2 separate regions of the Homo sapiens genome follow, and region 1 is linked to region 2. Evidence: fine-mapped expression QTL. A gene starts in region 2. The other region holds a variant in brackets. All regions are shown on one strand. Distances are from middle to middle.

Evidence for each region. PIP is the estimated chance that this variant, and not a neighbour inherited with it, causes the effect.
Region 1: its variant is fine-mapped to the expression of ST3GAL4 in visceral fat (GTEx, PIP above 0.99).

The regions. Positions count from the first base shown.
Region 1 is chr11:126,392,497-126,400,496 of GRCh38, forward strand. All of the region lies in intron 1 of ST3GAL4 (ST3 beta-galactoside alpha-2,3-sialyltransferase 4), which reads left to right. Among named protein-coding and RNA genes, the nearest start is that of ST3GAL4, 41 kb to the left of the region's middle. RefSeq lists an enhancer at 1,232-2,159. The variant A/G (reference allele first, on the strand shown) is at 3,450.
Region 2 is chr11:126,350,284-126,360,309 of GRCh38, forward strand. It overlaps ST3GAL4 (ST3 beta-galactoside alpha-2,3-sialyltransferase 4), which reads left to right and starts at 5,403. Exons shown (of 11, transcript NM_001254757.2): 1 at 5,403-5,559. It overlaps GSEC (G-quadruplex forming sequence containing lncRNA), which reads right to left and starts at 5,304. Exons shown (of 2, transcript NR_033839.1): 1 at 5,159-5,304. RefSeq lists enhancers at 4,295-5,038, 5,039-5,780, 5,781-6,524, 6,212-6,361, 8,011-8,752 and a silencer at 5,242-5,621.

The sequences.
Region 1 (8,000 bases), 41 kb after region 2:
AGCTTCTAGCAAGCCCCTTGTGCCTTAGATGCCCAGGTCTTTTCAGAATAAGCCTGGCTTGTTTTAACTTGATGCAACTTGCTGCTCACAGTCATCTTATTGTTTGCTGATGAATTCAGACCTCCATTCATTTAAATATTTGTCAGTTATCTACCATGTGTCAGGCATTAAATTTAGTGCTGGAGATACTATGGGACATAAGAAGTCCCTGCTTGCTGGGAGTGCGTGGTCTAATTGGTACTTGGGACAGTGTGGTTTAACTGCCACAAAGTTAATAAAGCAGCATGATGTGACAGAGCTGGATGTGGGGGAGTGAGGAAGCTTCTCTGGACTGGGTGGTCTGAACCCCATGCAGGGAGGAAACTGTGGCTGGGAGGAGAGGAGGCCGGAAGAGAGGTCTGGGCTTGGGTCCCAACCACTGATTCCAGATCTCTCAACATTTGTAACACGACCAACTCCTGTTCTTTTTTTTTTTTTTTTTTGAGACAGGCTAGAGTGCAGGGGGACGATCATAGCTTACTGCAGCCTCGATCTCCTGGACTCAGGGGGTCCTCCTGTCTCAGCCTCCCAAGTATCTAGGACTACAGGTGTGTGCCACCACACCCGGCTAATTTTATTTTTATTTTTATAGAGACGGGGCAGAGTCTGCAGTCACATGCCTTGCAAGTAGCAGAGACAGGGTTTAGTCTCGGTAGCCAGTGCCTAGGGCACAGGTCTTGGCCAGAGGAGAGAAGGCTCAGGTGAACCAGTTTCATCTGACCTGCTTGCTAACTCAAACATGGCTGCCCAACTGCGTGGGCTGGCAAGGTATGTGAGGTGGGTAGCTGGGTGGCCCGCCCCTTGCAGGCACTGGGGCAGGATATCAGGGGGTCCAGAAGAGGTTGGGTTTAGGCAGAGTAGAGGTGATTGTGTGGGCCGGGGGAGCAATGTCACCTTGAATGTGTTTCCATACCCAGGGCCCAGATGGCTCAGGAGGAGGGGGATGGGGACGGGGAGAGTGAGGTCTTTTTGACTTTGATGTGCTTTGACTGCACATCAGAGTCAAACGAGTCAGAATAAGCGGGACCCCTCCACAGGCATCTCAGCCCTCCTAATTTAGCCTTTCTGAAGTGGAGCCTTGGGAGCCGATGAAGCTTAATAAACTCTCCTGGTGCTTCCAGTAGGCACTTGAGGGTGGACACCACCGTCTTCAGGTCATAGGAAGTGTGAGCTAGCAGGAATCCTGGAGATTTTCTAGCCCAACAGTGTCCGGTCAAAATAGAATGGGAGCCAGAAATACAAGCCACATGTAATTTTAAATTACTTTTAAAACATTTAAATTTAGCCACGGTTTTAAAAAGTAAAAATAGGTGAAATTCGTTTTAATATTTTAACCCAATATAGCCAAAATCTTGGCATTTCAACATGGGATGAGCATAAAATAATGAAGGTGATATTTTATTCTTTTTTTGGGGTACTAAATCTTTGAAATCCGGTGTGTATTTTCCACTTAAAGCACATGTCAGTGTGGACTGGCCCCATTGCAAATACTCAGTGGCCTGGGACTGGGGTGACCAAGTGGGATGTGGTGGGGCTGGTGCAGTCCACCATTCTCACAGCAGGCATCTGGGGTCAGGGGAGGCAGGGCACTGGCTGTGCTGGAAGCAGGGGATTGGCTGTGCTGGTGGGAAGCCAGATTCCAGCCCCAGACACTGGTACCTTTGGCTTTAGATCCTTGGGGTGGGTGCATTGCTTCTCCTGGGAGGGAGGAGCGCCCGGGAGCCCCTGACCAGGACCTGGGGCAGGTCCACACAGGCCCTGGATTTCTCCTGTATCCTGGGCCTGGCCCTGCTCTCTTGACTCCCACCTCGTCACAGTGGCTTCAGCTTTTTCACCCTGAGAAGGGAATTCAAAGCCTCTGCCCCTCTCAGGCAGGCACCAGGATATGATTTTCTTTTTTCTTTTCTTTTTGTTTGAGACAGGATCTGACTTGGTCTGGAGTGTAGTAGCCTGATCTCAGCTCACTGCAGCCTCCACCTCCCGGGCTCAAGTGATCCTCCCACCTCAGCCTCTGAAGTAATTGGGATTACAAGCACATGCCACCATGCCCGGCTAATTTTTGTATTTTTTATAGAGATGGGGTTTCACCATGATGCCCAGGCTGTTCTTGAACTCCTGAGCTCAAGCAATCTGCCCTCCTCGGCCTCTCAAAGTGCTGGGATTACTGGCATGAGGCACGGGGCCCTGCCCTGGGTATGATTTTCAAGTGGTTGGTGTCTTGTGACTGGCAGCTGATAAACGGGTGATACAATGTTTCTGTACAGGAGTCTGCAGTGCCAGGCTGCAGGGGCGGATGGTGGGGGGTGGGTGGGTAGCCTGTGGAGCCCGAGGGTGGGAACAGAGAGTCTTCTTTTGCTGTAGGTGGAAGCCTGTCTGGCTCCTTTCCCTCTAAGGTCAGACAGCTTGAGAGATGTTTCCATCCTCCCATGCATGACCCTGAGGCAGTTAGCTGGTCAGTTACTCACTGTGCTCTCTGCCAACTCTAATGAGCCAGGAAGCCTCCCCGTGCCCAGGCGTGCTGTGATCACAGTGTTCAATGATGGGGTGAGGCTACAGCGTCCAGCCAGGGGCTGTGCCACAGGGGCCAGAAGATATCTGACCTACTGTCACTGCCTCTTCCACTCTGTTCCACCTGCACTGGGGCAATGCCATCTGATGAACAGATCCATTTATTAATTCAACACGTTTGTATTGAGAGCCTGCTGGGTGCCGGGCACTATTGTCAACATGGGTGATACAGCAGCAAGCAAAACAAGAGAAACATCTTTGCAAGCAGGGGAGGGGGCCTGCAGTGTTGGGTGTGTGGAGTTGTTGCTGGGAAGTAGAGAAGCTGAGTAAAGAGCTGGACGGAGAGAGATAGCCAGGCCCATGTCTACAGAAAAGCATTCTAGACTGAGTGAGCATAAATCGCAAAGGCCCAGAGGAGGGAGCATGCCTAGCTAGCCCCCTAGACCTGGTGAGGCTGGTGTGGGTTGGGCAGTGATACGGTTTGGCTGTGTCCCCACCCAAATCTCATATTGAATTGTAGCTCCCATAATTCCCATGTGTCATGGGAGAGACCTGGTGGGAGATAATTGAATCATGGTGGTGTTCTCCCCCAAGTTGTTCTCCTGGTAGTAAGTGTCAGGTGAGCCGATGGTTTTATGAGGGGTTTCCCTTTTCACGTGGCTGTCCTTCTTTCTTGCCTGCTGCCATGTAAGATATACTTTTTTTCTTCTGCCATGATTGTCAGGCCTCCCCAGCCACGTGGAACTGTGAGTCCATTAAACTTCTTTTTCTTTATTAATTTCCCAGTCTCGTGCATGTCTTTATCAGCAGCACGAAAACAGACTAACGCAGGCAGCCTGTGTTGGGAGGAGTTGGCAAGGAGGGAGGAGGTGCTGGCCAGTAGAGCACATGTGTCTCTGTGC[A/G]TCAGAGCAAGGACCCGGGCTCTCCCCGTGAGTGAGAAGAGTCCATGGGGTTTTGGGGCTGAGGAGGAGTTTTACAGATGACCGGTCTGTTCTTGGCACTTGCAATTAGCGGACCGTCTGTATCCGAGTGTTGATCGGGTGGATTCTAACCCTGTGGGAGAACTCCCCAGCCCGTAGCCTGCGCTCACTGTACCTGGCAGTTGTATTAATGACGTCAAATGCACAGTCCAGCTTGAGTCCCCTCTAGAACGTGGGCAGCGGACACTAAGCCGAGAGGAATCGCTGTGGGTTGGCAGACACTGTGGAGACTGACTCCTGGACAGGCTGTGGAATGTGTGGAAGCAGGTACAGCCCAGGCCCGCGCTGAGGTTCGGCAGGGAAGCCAGAGGAGTCCGCAGCCCGGGAGACCTGGCCTACAGCGGAGAGAGTCAGTCCATGCCAGTGGTGGGATGTGGCTGCAAAAAATGGTCGGATTCATGGAAGTCTGGTGTCCAGCTGGCAGGCATTAGTGGTCCCATGAATACAGCTGTGTGCCTTGAACACGTACTGCAGAGCTTCCAGAGAGCACCAGGGCTGTGGGGGCTAGAGACTGTGTCTCGTGCGGAAGCGTGGCTGAGAAGGGGCTCGACAGGCTCTTCGTCACTGTGCGGAGCCTTCGAAGGACTTGGATGTGCTTGAGACCCCTTCCCCTAATTGCTGTGTAGGGCAGGGGTGGACATCCCGGGGATCGTGGAGTCTAGGGAGCCAGTCTGCACGGGATGGTTTTAGAAGCCGTAGGATGTGGAGGTTCTGGCTGAAGGAGCCAGAATTCCAGTGCCAGCTCCACTCCTCACGAGCTGTACAACCTGGGCCGGTTACTGACCCCTTTCCCACCTTAGTTCCCTGGCTCTACAATGGAGGTAATTATCGTGTTGAACTCACAGGGTCGAGATCATATTTAACACTTTCACAGCCCTTAGAAGTGTCTAGCACAGTGGTCCTCAGCATTTGGAAATGTCTGGAAACACTTTGTCACACCTGAGAAGAGGGATTTCCTACTGGTGTCTAGTAGGTAGAGGCCAGAGATGGCTGCTAAACACCCCATAATACACAAGACAGACCCCGCAACAGTGAACTCTCTGGCCCCTCCAAGTCAGTGGTGCAGAGATTGAGAGATCCTGGTTTCGCGTTTTGAGCGTGCAGTACATTTCAGTTGTTAGTGGAACATGCAATACATCTTTATTCACATGTTATTACTTATTTGTCAGATGTTTGTAAAACATCTGCTACATTCTTGGCAGTTTAATAGAATCTGGAGATACAAAGAAGTTCCTGACCACAGAGGTCATTTAGGCAAGCTAGGAAAGCACAGAATGATATAACACAAAGTTACATTGTACCATAAAGCATATTCTATAGTACACTTAACTCTGGTGGGCTCTTGGTATAAAAATGTCTCCAATCTCAGAGGTCATGGGATAGTGGGCAAGACATGAAAACCTTGTATAATATAAAATTTTGTTACCTCTAAGTGCTGAAATTAAGGTATAAACAACGTCTCATGGGAACCAAAACATCAGTCATTTGGAAGTATAAGTCAAGCCTTCGTAGGAGAGGAACCATTTCAGCCCGATATTACCAGAGTGGGATGGTCCCAGCGAGCGGGATGTGGAGGGTTAGGATGTTATCTTAGTCTGTTTTGTGCTGCCATTACCACCAAGTAGGTAATTTATAAGGAGCAGAAGTTTATTTGGCTCACAGTTCTGGAGGCTCGGATGTCCAAGATCTAGAGGACACATCCGGTGAGGGTCTTCTTGCTGCATTGTCTCATGGTGGATGGAAGAAGGGCAAGGTGGAGAGAGAGAGCAGGAAGGGGCCTAATTGTCCTTTTATAAGGAACCCACTCCTGTAATAATGGCATTAAACCCATTCATGAGAACAGAGCCCTTGACCCATTCATGAGAACAGAGCCCTCATGGCCTACTCTTATGAGACCCCACCTCACAACATTGTTAACATTTAGGATCAAGTTTCTAGCACATGAACTTTGAGGGACACATTCAAACCATAGCATTCTGCCCCAGTCCCCAAAATGGATGTCCTTGTCACATGTAGAATACATTTGCTTCTTACCTATAATCCCAAATTCTTATTTGTTTCAGCACCACATTAAAAGTCCAAAGTCCACAGTCTCATCTAAGTCAGCTGTGGGTAAAACTCAAGGTATGGTTCATCCTGAATCAAATTCCCCTCCAGTCATGGGCTGTGAAATCAAGCAAGTTGTCTGCTTCCAAAGTACAGTGATGGGACAGGCATAGGACAGATATTCCATTCCAAAAGGGAGAGATAGGCAAGAAGAAAGGGGCAACTGGTCCAGACAACTCCAGAACCCAGCAGGGGGAACAATACCAAATCCCAACTTGACAATAATCTTCTTTGACTCCATGTCCTGCCTTCCAGACACACTCGGGTAGGGACTTGGGCCCCCAAGGCCTCCGGCAGCCCTGCTTCCCTGGCCTTGCTGGGCTCATTCCATGCAGCAGCTCTCACCGGTTGGAGTCTCATGCTTGCAGCTCCCCCAGGTTGCTGTTGCACACTGGTAGCTCTGCAGTTCTGGGGTGTCAGGATGGCCTTACTCCCACAGCTCCACTAGGCTTCCTGGGGACTCTCAGCAGCTCAGACTCCACAGTTCTGCTGGGCATTGCCCTACAGGGGCTCCCTGGTGGTGGCTCTGACCCTGCAACCAGTCTCTGCCTGGGTCCCGAGTCTGTCCGCAATATCCTTTGAAATCTAGTTGGAGGGAGCCAGGCCCATAGCCCCTGCATTCTGTACTCTGGTGGCATTAGGACCATGTGGGATGCCACCAAGACTCACCACTTGCACCTTCTAGAATGGTAGGTCAAGCTGCACCTGGGCCCATTTAAGCCATGGCTGGGGAGGCAGAGGAGCACTGTGCCCAAATGTGGGAGCAGAGACTTGAGGTGGCCCTGGACAGTGAGCCACAGGTCCTGAGGGCTCCCAAGACCTGGCTTTTGACATAGTTCCTTCCCTCAGATTTTGGCACTGCCGGAGCTGTGATCACAGGTCATCTCTGCAGTACCTTTGGGATCATTCTTATTTTCTTGATGAATAGCCTCTGGCTTCATTCTTATTGTACTAATCTCCTTATCAAACTGTGGCTCTGGCCAATACTAATCTCCTTATCAAGTGGTCCATACTAATATTCTTATTAAACTATCAAACGGTAACATGCCTGCACCCTTGCTTTCCTCTCCTGAAAGTTCTTTCATTCTCTACTACAGGGCCGGTCTCAGAATCCTTCCAGTCTCTAAGTTCTGTTTCGCTTTTCATTATAAATTTCTTTCTTTCTTTCCTTCTTTTTTTTTTTTTTTTTTTTTGAGATGGAGTCTCACTCTGTTGCCCAGGCTGGAGTTCAGTGGCACGATCTCAGTTTACTGCAACTTCTGTCTCCTGGGTTCAAACCATTCTCCTGCCTTAGCCTCCCTAATAGCTGGGATTTCAGGTGTGTGCCACCACACCCAGCTAATTTTTTTGTATTTTTAGTAGAGATGGGGTTTCATCATGTCAGCCAGGCTGGTCTCGAACTCCTGACCTCAAATGATCCGCCCGCCTCAGCCTCCCAAAGTGCTAGGATTACAGACGTGAGCTACTGCGCCCAACCCTGCTTTTATTTATAAGTTTCATCTTTAAATTATTTATTTCTTCTCAAGTTTTACAGTATACAGTTAAAATAAGTCATACAGCAACCAAAATGCTTTGCTGCTTAGGTATTTCTTCCACCAAATAGCCTAGTTTATCACTCTTAAGTTCTGCCTGCTATACAGTTTGAGGACCTGGACACAATGTAGCCACATTCTTTGCTGCTTTGTAACAAGGATGACTGTTATGCCAGTTTCCAGTACCTTAATCTTCAGATATATCTGAGACCTCATCAGAATGGCCTTCACGATCGATATTTCTACCACCATTCTGATCACAACCACTTAGTCTAAGAAGTTTCAGACTTTCCCTACAGATCTTCTAATCCCGCTTTATTGCCTGCCTGCCTCCCTCCCTCCCTTCCTTCTTTCCTCTCTGCTCTCTCTCTCTTTTCTTCCTTTCCCTCCCCTCCCCTGCTTTCCTCTCCCCTCTCCACTTCTTGGCACCAATTTTCTGTCTTAGTCCATTTTGTGCTGCTGTAACAGAATACCACAGATTGAGTATATTATAATGAATAGAATTTTATTTGGCTCATGGTTCTGGAGGCTGGGAAGTCCAAGATCAAGGGGCTGCTCTGGCAAGGGCCTTCTTGCTGCATCATCCCATGGTGGAGAGTGGAATGGCAAGACAGATCAAGAGGGGACCTAACTGGCCTTTTATAAGGAACCCAGTTCCACAGTAATGGCATTAACCCATCCATGAGAGCAGAGCCCCATGATCTAAACACCTTTTATTAGGCCCTGCTTATACTGTTGCACTGGGGATCAAGTTGCAGCACTTGGACTTCGGGCAACACATTCAAACCATAGCAGGCACCTTAATAAAGGTGGAAAAGGGATGTGGCAGCTACAG
Region 2 (10,026 bases):
TATGCATTATGTCACATATTTATCATTTTGTAATGGTGAGAACATTTAAAATCTCTGTGAGCAATTTTCAAGTATACAGTACATTGCTTTTTTTGTTTTTTTGAAACAGAGTCTCACTGTGTCACCCAGGCTGGAGGGCAGTGGCGCAGTCTCGACTCACTGCAACCTCCACCTCCTGGGTTCAAGCGATTCAGCCTCCCAAGTAGCTGAGATTACAGGCGCACACCACCACACCTGGCTAATTTTGTAGTTTTATAGTAGAGACGGGGTTTCACCATGTTGGACAAGCTGGTCTAGAACTCCTGACCTCAAGTGATCTGTCTGCCTCAGCTTCCCAAAGTGCTGGGATTACAGGCGTAGGCCACCACCCCCCGCCCAGTACATTGTTATTAACTATTGTCACCATGTGGCACAATAGATCTCTGGAACTTCTTCCTCCCATCCAACTGAAAGTTTGCATTCTCTGACCATCTCCCCATTCCAACAGGCAACCACCATTCTACTCTCTGCTTCTGTGAGTTCCACTTTGTTAGGTTCTACACACGAGATCACGCAGCGTTTGTCTTCTTGTGCTCTAGGCTGGATCTTGGTTATCAGCCCAATGACAAGCAGAGTAAAGGCCCGGAAGTTAGGGAGACCAGGGCTCAGTGTGGCTGGCACTGAGAGCTGAGCTTCTAGCGTGGGCCCACACATACATTTAAGACTGTAGCCAATTTTCCTTTCAGAACCACGATGAAGAAATGAAAGCCAAGGCCAAGAAAATCTTTAATGTTCTGTTCCTCCCCTGCTTGGGAAGTAGAGTGGTCTGAAGGCTCCAACACAGAATCTGTGCCATAACCAAGTCTTATCTGGGGCAAGTTACATAACTGCTCATGAAATAGGAGTGATAACAATGCTTCCCCCAGACGGTTTTTCTGAGGGTTAAATAAGAATTTTGTGGGACATAGTAATCACTCAGTAAATGTTCTGGTCTGAGAGTGACCAAAAGGATGGAACTAGAGATATTTGGGCAAGATATTTGCTATGGCCTGAACGTCTGTGTTCCCCTAAAATTCATATGTGGAAATCCTAACACCCAAGGCAATCGTGGGGCCTTTGGGAGGTGATTAGGCCATGAGGGTGGGGGGCCCCCATTAATGGGATTAGTGCCTCATAAAAGAGATCCCAGAGTCACCCCTAGGCCCTTCCTCTCACTGTGAGGTTACAGTGAGAAGATGACCTTGTATGAACCAGGAAGCAGGCTGCTGGCATCTTCATCTTAGACTTTCTAGCCTACAGAACTGTGAGAGATTTCTGTAGTTTATAAGCCATCCAGTCTACATTTTGTATAACAGACCAAACAAATATTAAAAATAACTTCGTGATTAGAAGTGCTACAAAATGCTAGACTACGCATGGAACCAAGAGTTTCTATTTATTTACTTTTTGAGACAGTCTCACTCTGTTGCCAGGCTGGAGTGCAGTGGCTCAATCTCGGCTCACTGCAACCTCCGCCTCCCGGGTTCAAGTGATTCTCCTGCCTCAGCCTCCTGAGTAGCTGGGATTACAGGCACCCACTACCACGCCCAGTTAATTTTTGTGTTTTTAGTAGAGATGGGGTTTCACCATGTTGGCCAGGCTGGTCTCGAAATTCCGACTTCTGGTGATCCACCCACCTCGGCCTCCCAAAGTGCTGAGATTACGGGCATGAGCCAACACTCCTGGCCAACCAAGAGGTTTCAAGGAAAAAAGCCGTAAACTTTTGGTGGTTAACTGACTGTGGTCCTAAACAGAGGCAGGGGCTGTGTGCAATGACTTCTCAGGATCTCTTTCAGCCTACAGGTTCCTGGAATGCATTTCAGCTAACACTACAAGAGTGATGTCCCTTGCTACTGAGAACCCTGGGAACAGCTCAGCTCCATGGTCCAGCCATATAAATCTGATAAAAATAGGAGCTGAAATACCATCCTGGAGTTGCTATTTTTAAAATCATCTGAGATGCTGGATGGGGTATATTTCTTCCTCAAACACATCTTGCTGTTTCCTCCTCTTGGTGGGCAGGATGCTAACGTGGCACATGATACAGGAGCTGTTCCACGCTGCTGCTCACACCCACTCCTGCCAGAGAGGGGCCGCAGGGCCAGGGCTTCCCAGATCTAGATGCACCTGCTCCTCCCTCTGCTCCTGAGGCCCCTCTGGTTGCCCCAGCACAGAGGTGTCCTGCCACTTCCACCAAGCAGAAACACAGGAGAGTTTGGGAGGCAAAGGAAATGGGAATGGAGGCAGCACTGATGGCTTGGAAGGGGACTAAGACCTGTTGTTCCTCTGGTTGCCTTGGTCCCACTTTGGCACAGTTAACATCCAAAAGAAACAGTCCCCATGGGCCAAAGCCCTGCTTATCCCATCCTACTGCCTCTTGCTGAGCCGCTCATCATGTGTTGTAGTTGCACCAAAGGGGGGCCTGGGGCCAAAAAAGCACATGGAGAGGAGAGAGGAGAGAAGAGGAGAAGGAAAGATGGAAAGACAAGAAAAGAGAGAGAGAGAGGAAGGAAGGAAAGAAGGAAGGAAGAAAAAAAAAGAAAGAAAAAGAAAGAAGAGGAGAAGGAAAGATGGAAAGACAAGAAAAGAGAGAGAAAGGAAGGAAGGAAAGAAGGAAGAAAGGAAAGAAAAGAGAAGAGGAGAAGGAAAGATGGAAAGACAAGAAAAGAGAGAGAGAAAGGAACGAAGGAAAGAAGGAAGGAAGAAAGGAAAGAAAGAAAAAGAGAAGAGAAGGAAAGATGGAAAGACAAGAAGAGAGAGAGAGAAAGCAAGGAAGGAAAGAAGGAAGAAAAAGAAAGAAAAAGAGAAGAGGAGAAGGAAAGATGGAAAGACAAGAAAAGAGAGAGAAAGGAAGGAAGGAAAGAAGGAAGGAAGAAAGGAAAGAAAAAGAAAGAAGAGGAGAAAGAAAGATGGAAAGACAAGAAAAAGAGAGAGAAAGGAAGGAAGGAAAGAAGGAAGGAAGAAAGGAAAGAAAGAAAAAGAAAGAAGAGGAGAAGGAAAGATGGAAAGACAAGAAGAGAGAGAAAGGAAGGAAGGAAAGAAGGAAGGAAGAAAAGAAAGAAAGAAAAAGAGAGAAGAGAAGAGGAGAAAGGCACCAGAATTGCTTCCCTCCTGCCCCAAAGATGACATGGCTTCTAGGCAGTGAGCTAAGCTTGTGGCCATGCTGTTAAGAAACTGGAGGGAAAAGATCATCATGAGTAAGCACATTGTGGCCTAACCTGAGGGGAGCAGAATTACGGTTAGCTTCTGGGCACCTAGTAACCAGGCTTGGGATAAGCTGGGGGAGAGGCCTGAATACAGCTTATAGGTTAGAAAAGGCACGCCACCTGCATAGTAACAGCACACACTTATATATAGCAGGTTATGCTTTCAGACCAAATTCGCATCCATTGCCTGATTTAATGCCAACAATAGCCCTTTGAATAAGCAGTTATTTCCTTTCCCCTCCCCCCACCCCAGTAAGAAAACTAAAGCTATTTAGTGGCAGAGACAAGAGTTGGAACTCAGGTCTCCAGGAACAAATGCTGGTTCTTAAGTTCCATTTTCTGGTAGAGTGACATTTACGTGATTCACGGCAAGAACTGCAAACTGTGCTTAGATCTAGTTCATCAAATGGCCAAGTTTAGAGGCTGGGCTGACGCTTGGATCAGTTCTGTCAGATTCACTTAGTTATGAAGGGCAGCTGCTTACTCCCTTTGGGCCAGTCTTCCCATCTGTAGAACAAGGAGGCTCTTCCCTCTTCCTCGACTTGCCCGAGGCAGGGACTTAGTCATTGTGTTCTTTATACCCAGCTTAATTCCAGGCCTGGAGATGGCATGCAATAAATAGTTGTTGAATGGCTCACGCCTGTAATCCCAACACTTTGGGAGGCCGAGGCGGGCGGATCATAAGGTCAAGAGATCGAGACCATCCTGGCCAGCATGGTGAAACCTCGTCTCTACTAAAAATACAAAAATTAGCTGGGCATGGTGGCACGCGCCTGTAGTCCCAGCTACTCGGGAGGCTGAGGCAGGAGAATCACTTGAACCCGGGAGGCAGAGGTTGCAGTGAGCCAAGATCACGCCAGTGCACTCCAGCCTGGCGACAGAGCGAGACTCTGTCTCAAAATAATAAATAAATAAATAAATAAATAAATAAATAAATAGTTGTTGAATGCATGTCTGACTGATTAAGCCAAAGGCACCATATTCAAACAAAATCAGACACTGGTGCAATGCCAAACAGCTTCTGCCCGTGCAAGGAATGATTTAGCATGGAGCACAGTCACCTGCAGAGGAACAACTTGGAGGCAGACTCTCCTTACTCAGCTCACTTGGAGCAGAGCTTCCTGAGTTGGGGGTTCTTGACAGATAAGCCCTCCAGCTTCAGCAGAAGCAGGCTTGGAGCTGCCACTTCTCTGAACCCCCTTGCACTTACTGTCAGTCACTCACACCTTGCACTTATTCACATCCTATCCTGCCTCGTTCTTGAATGGAGTCCATGGTGAGCCTTCTCTGTGCCGCTGGATGGTAAGCTTCCTGGGGACAGGGAATGGGTCTGATAGTTTCCTTGGAGCCCCTGGCGCTCCCGGCACTGGGCTGTTGATACGTGGGGCTCCGGAAACACTGTGCTGACCTGTGAAAGGGACTGGCCTAAGGGGCTGTGGATTGTCCTGTAGGGTGACTTCTGAACTGTTCTTCAGCCTGGGCAGTTCCCAGGTTTATTTGGGGGGATGCCTGGGTCCAAAGAACCAGGGTCAGGGGCCCAGGGGTTTCTTCCTGGAGACAGGATGCCTGGCGCCTTCAATAACGGAAAGGAAACTGAGAAACTTTCTGAGGCCAAGATAAAGAGTATGCAAGTGAGGGGTGCAGAGAGAGCAGTTTAGGGGCAGCAGGCCCCAACCGAAGCAGAGGAAGGGCCCACGTCTGGGCCCAGGGGACTGACTGGCTGCCTTGCGTGCATGGGGCACGGGAAGCATAGGCTCCCGGAACAGGACCCTGCCCCAGTTTCCCCAGTGAGGGAAGGACACCGTTCCCCGTGGGATAGAGCACTGCACCCTTTCTTGATTCTCATTGTTCCCGGGAGCGAGCGCCTTGGCTGCGCTGGGCATACCCACCCTGGCGCCATTCACAGGCAGTGCCTGCCCTGGCCCTGTGCTCACCCCATCAGGCCTCCTCTTCCGCCTCTCTGGCACCCACGGCGCCCCTGCTTGCCTCTGTCCGGGTCTCGGAGGCGCGAACACCATCCCAAGCCTGCGACCGCGCGGCATCACCCCCGCCCTTCCCCCTCCTCCACCCCGCCCTTTCTACCCCTCCCGGGAGCTCCTGGGAGTCGGGCCGCCGTGTGCGCAAGCGTGTCCAGCCCCTTCCCCGCCCCCAACCCGGGCCCGGGTCCCCGCCTCCCCTGCAGGCGGACTCGCCCGCTCCCAGGCCGGACCCGCGCCCGGGACAGGGACCCGGCCGAGTCGAGCCGTCGCGCCAGCGCTGCGCCGCCGGTCGGTGCGCCTAGCGGATCGGAGCTGCGCGCGGAACCGTGCTGCCCCGCCCCGCTCCACCCGTGAGGGTGAGTACGCGGCGGCGGTGCGCGGGGGCCCGCGGGGCGGGGCGGGGCGGGGAGCCGCGGGGTCCTCGGCCGCCTGACCCCAGCCGGCGCCGCGCCTCCCGGAGGGGGTCGGGCCCTGCACGTGGGCGCAGCGCGGGTCGGGGTGGGGCTGCCACAGCCCTGCGGAGCTGCTTTCCGGGGTCCCTTTCCCTGGACCAGATTTTCGCGGGAAGCCGGATCCTCTCCGTTCCCTTGGAGTGAGCAAGCGGGACAGTTCTGCGGAAAGTTTCCGCCCCCAATCCCCCAGCCCTGCGCCCGGACTGAAGCGGCGGCCCCCACCTCCAGCATCCTCGAGCGATGGTTTCTCCCACAACTACCCCGGTCAGGTCCAGCACTTGGGAGCTGACTGTGCTGGAGGTGACAGGCTTTGCGGGGTCCGCCTGTGTGCAGGAGTCGCAAGGTCGCTGAGCAGGACCCAAAGGTGGAGTTGTCAGTGGGAGGCCGGCTGTGCCCAGGGTCCTAGGGCCACGTTATGGGGGTCGTCAGGCCTAGGCCACTGTGCCTCAGGGCTGCATGGGTGGTGAGCAGTGGGAGGGATGCGATGGGGGGAGTGGGCTCAGCTGTCTGCTGTGGGTGTTTCCTCGGGGACCTGGCTGGCAGGGACCTCCCGGCCAGCCCAGAACTGCCAACATGTCTGCCAGCACTGCCCCTCCATTCCCAGTCCTGGGGGGAGGCTCTGTCTGGGCAGCTTGAGGCCTGACCTACTGTGGCTGCTTCCTCTGCTCCCCAGCCTGGGTCCTGAGGGCCTGGCTTAAGGGAACTGCTGCCAGAAGGCTGGGAGTGTAGGCAGTGTTCGGGTGCCCAGCTGTGCCCTGTCTGACCTCATGGCCACCCACAAGCTGGCACCCCCCACAGGCCTCTTGGGGAAGCCTGTACTTTCCACCGCCGGAGGCGGGTACCGCGTGGAAGCCAGGCTCAGGCGGACTCATTCTTTTTGAACTTTGGGAACAGGCCTGGTACAGGCTGAGTTCTCACAAGAGACACACACCCGTGTCACTGTCTCCTGAGCTGTGCCGGACCCGTCCTACAGACTCCACCTCCTCTAGGTCCTGGCCCTGGCATCTGCCAGGGGGATTTTAAATGAGTTGATATATGCTAAGTGCTTTGAAAGGCGCCTGCACGGAGGGAGAGCTGTATAAATATTCACTATTGGTAATATTTCTCCCATGCTGTTACTCTCCAAAGCTGCCCGATAATTCTAGAGTGGGTTCCGGGGACGTGCCCGCTGTTTGGGGCCTAGAAATGAACTCGGGAGGTTGTTTTGCTTGCTGAGAGCTGGTCTGGGAATGCCCCTTGACCGTTCCCTGCCCTGCTCCTGGCCCACTCCCAGACTGCTCCTGTGCCTGGCCCCATTGCGCTGGGTGGGTGATCCTAAGCTGCCCCATGGGCCCTGGGCTCTGTCAAGACATGGGGAGCTTGCCAGGAGTTGGGGCCAGATCCCCCAGACTCCAAGATGGTAACCGAGGTTGTGAGGGTGCACATGGAAGGAAGAGTTAGAAGAGTGAATTGGAAATTGCCAGCTTGGACTTTGGGCAGAGTGGGTGTCTTTAGCTTGGGGATGGGTTGTTGTTCAGAGACAACAGGGCCGCCTTCTCTGTGAGCTGGCGGCCCAGGCTGAGGTGCCTCTGGGCTGCCTTCCCTACGGGAAGCAGTGACTGGCCCTCTGCTTCTCAGGAAGAGAGTGCCGTGCCCCCGCCAGCCTCCCAACCTCGTTAGACTCCTAGAATCCGGTTTTCTGGATAGAACTAAGAATCTGCTCCTTTCTGGACTTTTAATCCTGGAAAGGGCTCCCTTCCCCAGCAGGAGCAGAGAGACCAAACCCCCTTTCTGTGCTCCATCTTGAGCTGTCATTCTGTCCTAACTCCCCACTGGCCACCATCTGCCCTTGCTTTGGGGGCTACCCCAGGTCTGACTTGGGCACGTTCTCTGGGTCTCTCCTCAGAGAGGCTGCTCCTGGGGTTGTCCCAATGGAATTGGGAATTCTTCTCAGAATGGCTCAAAGGTTTGCACCATCTGTTGGAGGGAAGGGATCCCTCTATCTTGGACTAATACAAATGTTTCCGTGCCTGCCAAGTTCCAGACCCTGGGCCGATAGGGAAAGGAGCTGGCTGGGGGGCCTGCAGGGGATGGAGAGGGAGCTTGGGCCCCAAGTGGGGTCTGAAGTCCAAGCCTACAGATTGCCATCAAGGCAGCCGCTAGAGCCTAGCCCAGCTCCTGGCCCCTCGGAGATGGACCTTAGATGCTGGAGAGCGGGGCAGTCCAGCAGTGCAGGGTGGGACACCCCGAGCAAACAGCCCCTGCTTCCTGCCCCCTCAGTTCAGTCGCACTGGGCCGGCTGGACGTTTCCCTGCAACAGGCCCCTGCTGGTGGTTTAGCTCCCGCTCCGTGTTTCCCTCACGCTGGGATCCTCCTTCCTACTCAAGACCCACGACCTTGACCTGAAGCTTTTGGTTGCCGGGAGGAAATGGTGAGTGTAGGCAGATTTGGGTGACTCTTGTTATTAACCCCCTCTTCTTTGTTGCCCCCTTCCCAGAGGCTTCTGTATGAGTGTCCTGAGTGGCCCTGGATGGACTACTGGCTGTCCCTGGCCTCAGAATCACCCCAACCCCTGCCACATTTCGGGGAGGGAGGTGTGTGAATGATGTCCTTTATTCTACAGACTGAGGAAGTGGTCAGTGTAGCTTCACGTGAGAGCAGCAGCGTGCGATGCCCAGGCCCTAGCCAAGTGCTGGTCAGCTTTCTGACTGGAGCCCCTGAGCCCTGCAGGGGCTGAATTCCCCCAAAGGTTGCTTGGGTTGTTGCATTTCGGGGTTAGAGGGTGTGGGTGTCCAGAGCTGTGGGTTTTTAGTGTTGGCTGAGCCCTTTACCTGGGACCTACAGCCTGGCCACAACCCCATCTCTGTTCCCCTGTACCCCACACTGCCCTGTGATAGGATGTGATAAGATGGTAGGATTGCCTATACTGAAGCCCTGGGTGCCACTGCTGGCCCAGCAGGGAGGAGGTTGCTGCTGCTCGGGCTGAAGTGAGGTGTGGGTCTGGCTGGGCCTCCAGTTTCCCACCTGGGCCTTGATTGTGAGGAAGGCCTGGCCTGGCTGCAGAAGCCCAGAAGCACCTGAGTAGGAGAGTTCCTTTGTCCCACCTGCAGCTCATTCAAGCCTGTGCATGGGGGTTGGGGTCCTCAGGATCTTGCTTTCCTGTTTAGGGGAGGCAGCCCCAAAGAGTGCTGGGACCAGTTTGGAGAGTGCTAAGGAATGCTGGTCTGCAGCGACCCTACTTGTGCTCTGCGTCCTCTGCCAACTGCAGCATGGGTGAACATCTGTACATCTGTCCCCATAATGAAAATGGCCTCAGCAAATAACAAAAATATTACCATTTAGCAATCAGGCACTTATTAAAAGCCTGGCCCAATAAACTTAAAAAAAAAAAAAAGATGTGCTAGACACTTTACGTCCCTTCATGTGAGCTTCACACAACCCTGTAATTAAGCCCATTTATAAATGAAGAAATGGAGGATTGAAGGATTAAGTTACTTGGCCAAGGTCATACAGCTCGTAAGCAGCTGAGCTAGGACTCAAATCCAGGCTTGCTTCCAAAACCTTCACTTTTCAGCCCAGTTCTCAACTGCCCCCTGGAGTTTGCTCATTTTGCCCCATGAAGAAACAGATCCCAGCTCAAAGGCGTGAAGGGGTTTGCTCAAGGCCACAGTGTATTAGTGTCAAAGGTGGAACACAAACCCTGACCTCTGAGTGCTCTCCCGAACCCCACATCCCGGCCGGGCCGTACCCTGAGCACACGCTTGTCCGCTTTCTCAGCTGGGCGGGGCGGGGCAGGACAAGGTTCTTCTCCCTCCCTCCTTCCCTCCTTCCCTCCTTCCCTCCTTCCCCGTGGGCCCTCCCAGCCTCCCCAGCCCCCACCTCTGCTGCTTTCCCTTGGCAATTGCTTCCATCTGGCCTGCCTGCAGCTCCTATTCCTTTGGAAATGTGGCTGCCGCCCACATGGCTGCAAGGCAACCACGGCCACACGTGGGGAAGGGGAGGGGCCCTATGGGGTCTAAGCACAGGGAACCCAGCCAAAGTGGCTGCTCCTGGCGTCTGGCATCCTGATTCCTGCCAGGCAGAAGCACCTTGGCTGCCTGGCCCTCCTTGATGCCCGTCCTGGGCTGGCTCAAGGCCAGAGAGGCTCCCAAAGACCCAATTCTCCTTCCAACATGGTGAGCTGTTTTGCCCACAGACAAGCTCCGCACCGGCAGCCCTCCCTGTCTCTTAGAGGTTGCTCAGGTTGGGAGGAGGGATTCCTGGCAGGAGAGAATTAGGGGCCAGCCGGGGTATACCCTGGGTTCCCACTGGGTTCTGATCATTTGGAGGGAAGTCATGCAAGGGACTGACGAGGGCAGAGGCTGAGGGATCCGCGGAGTTCTGGGCAGGCGA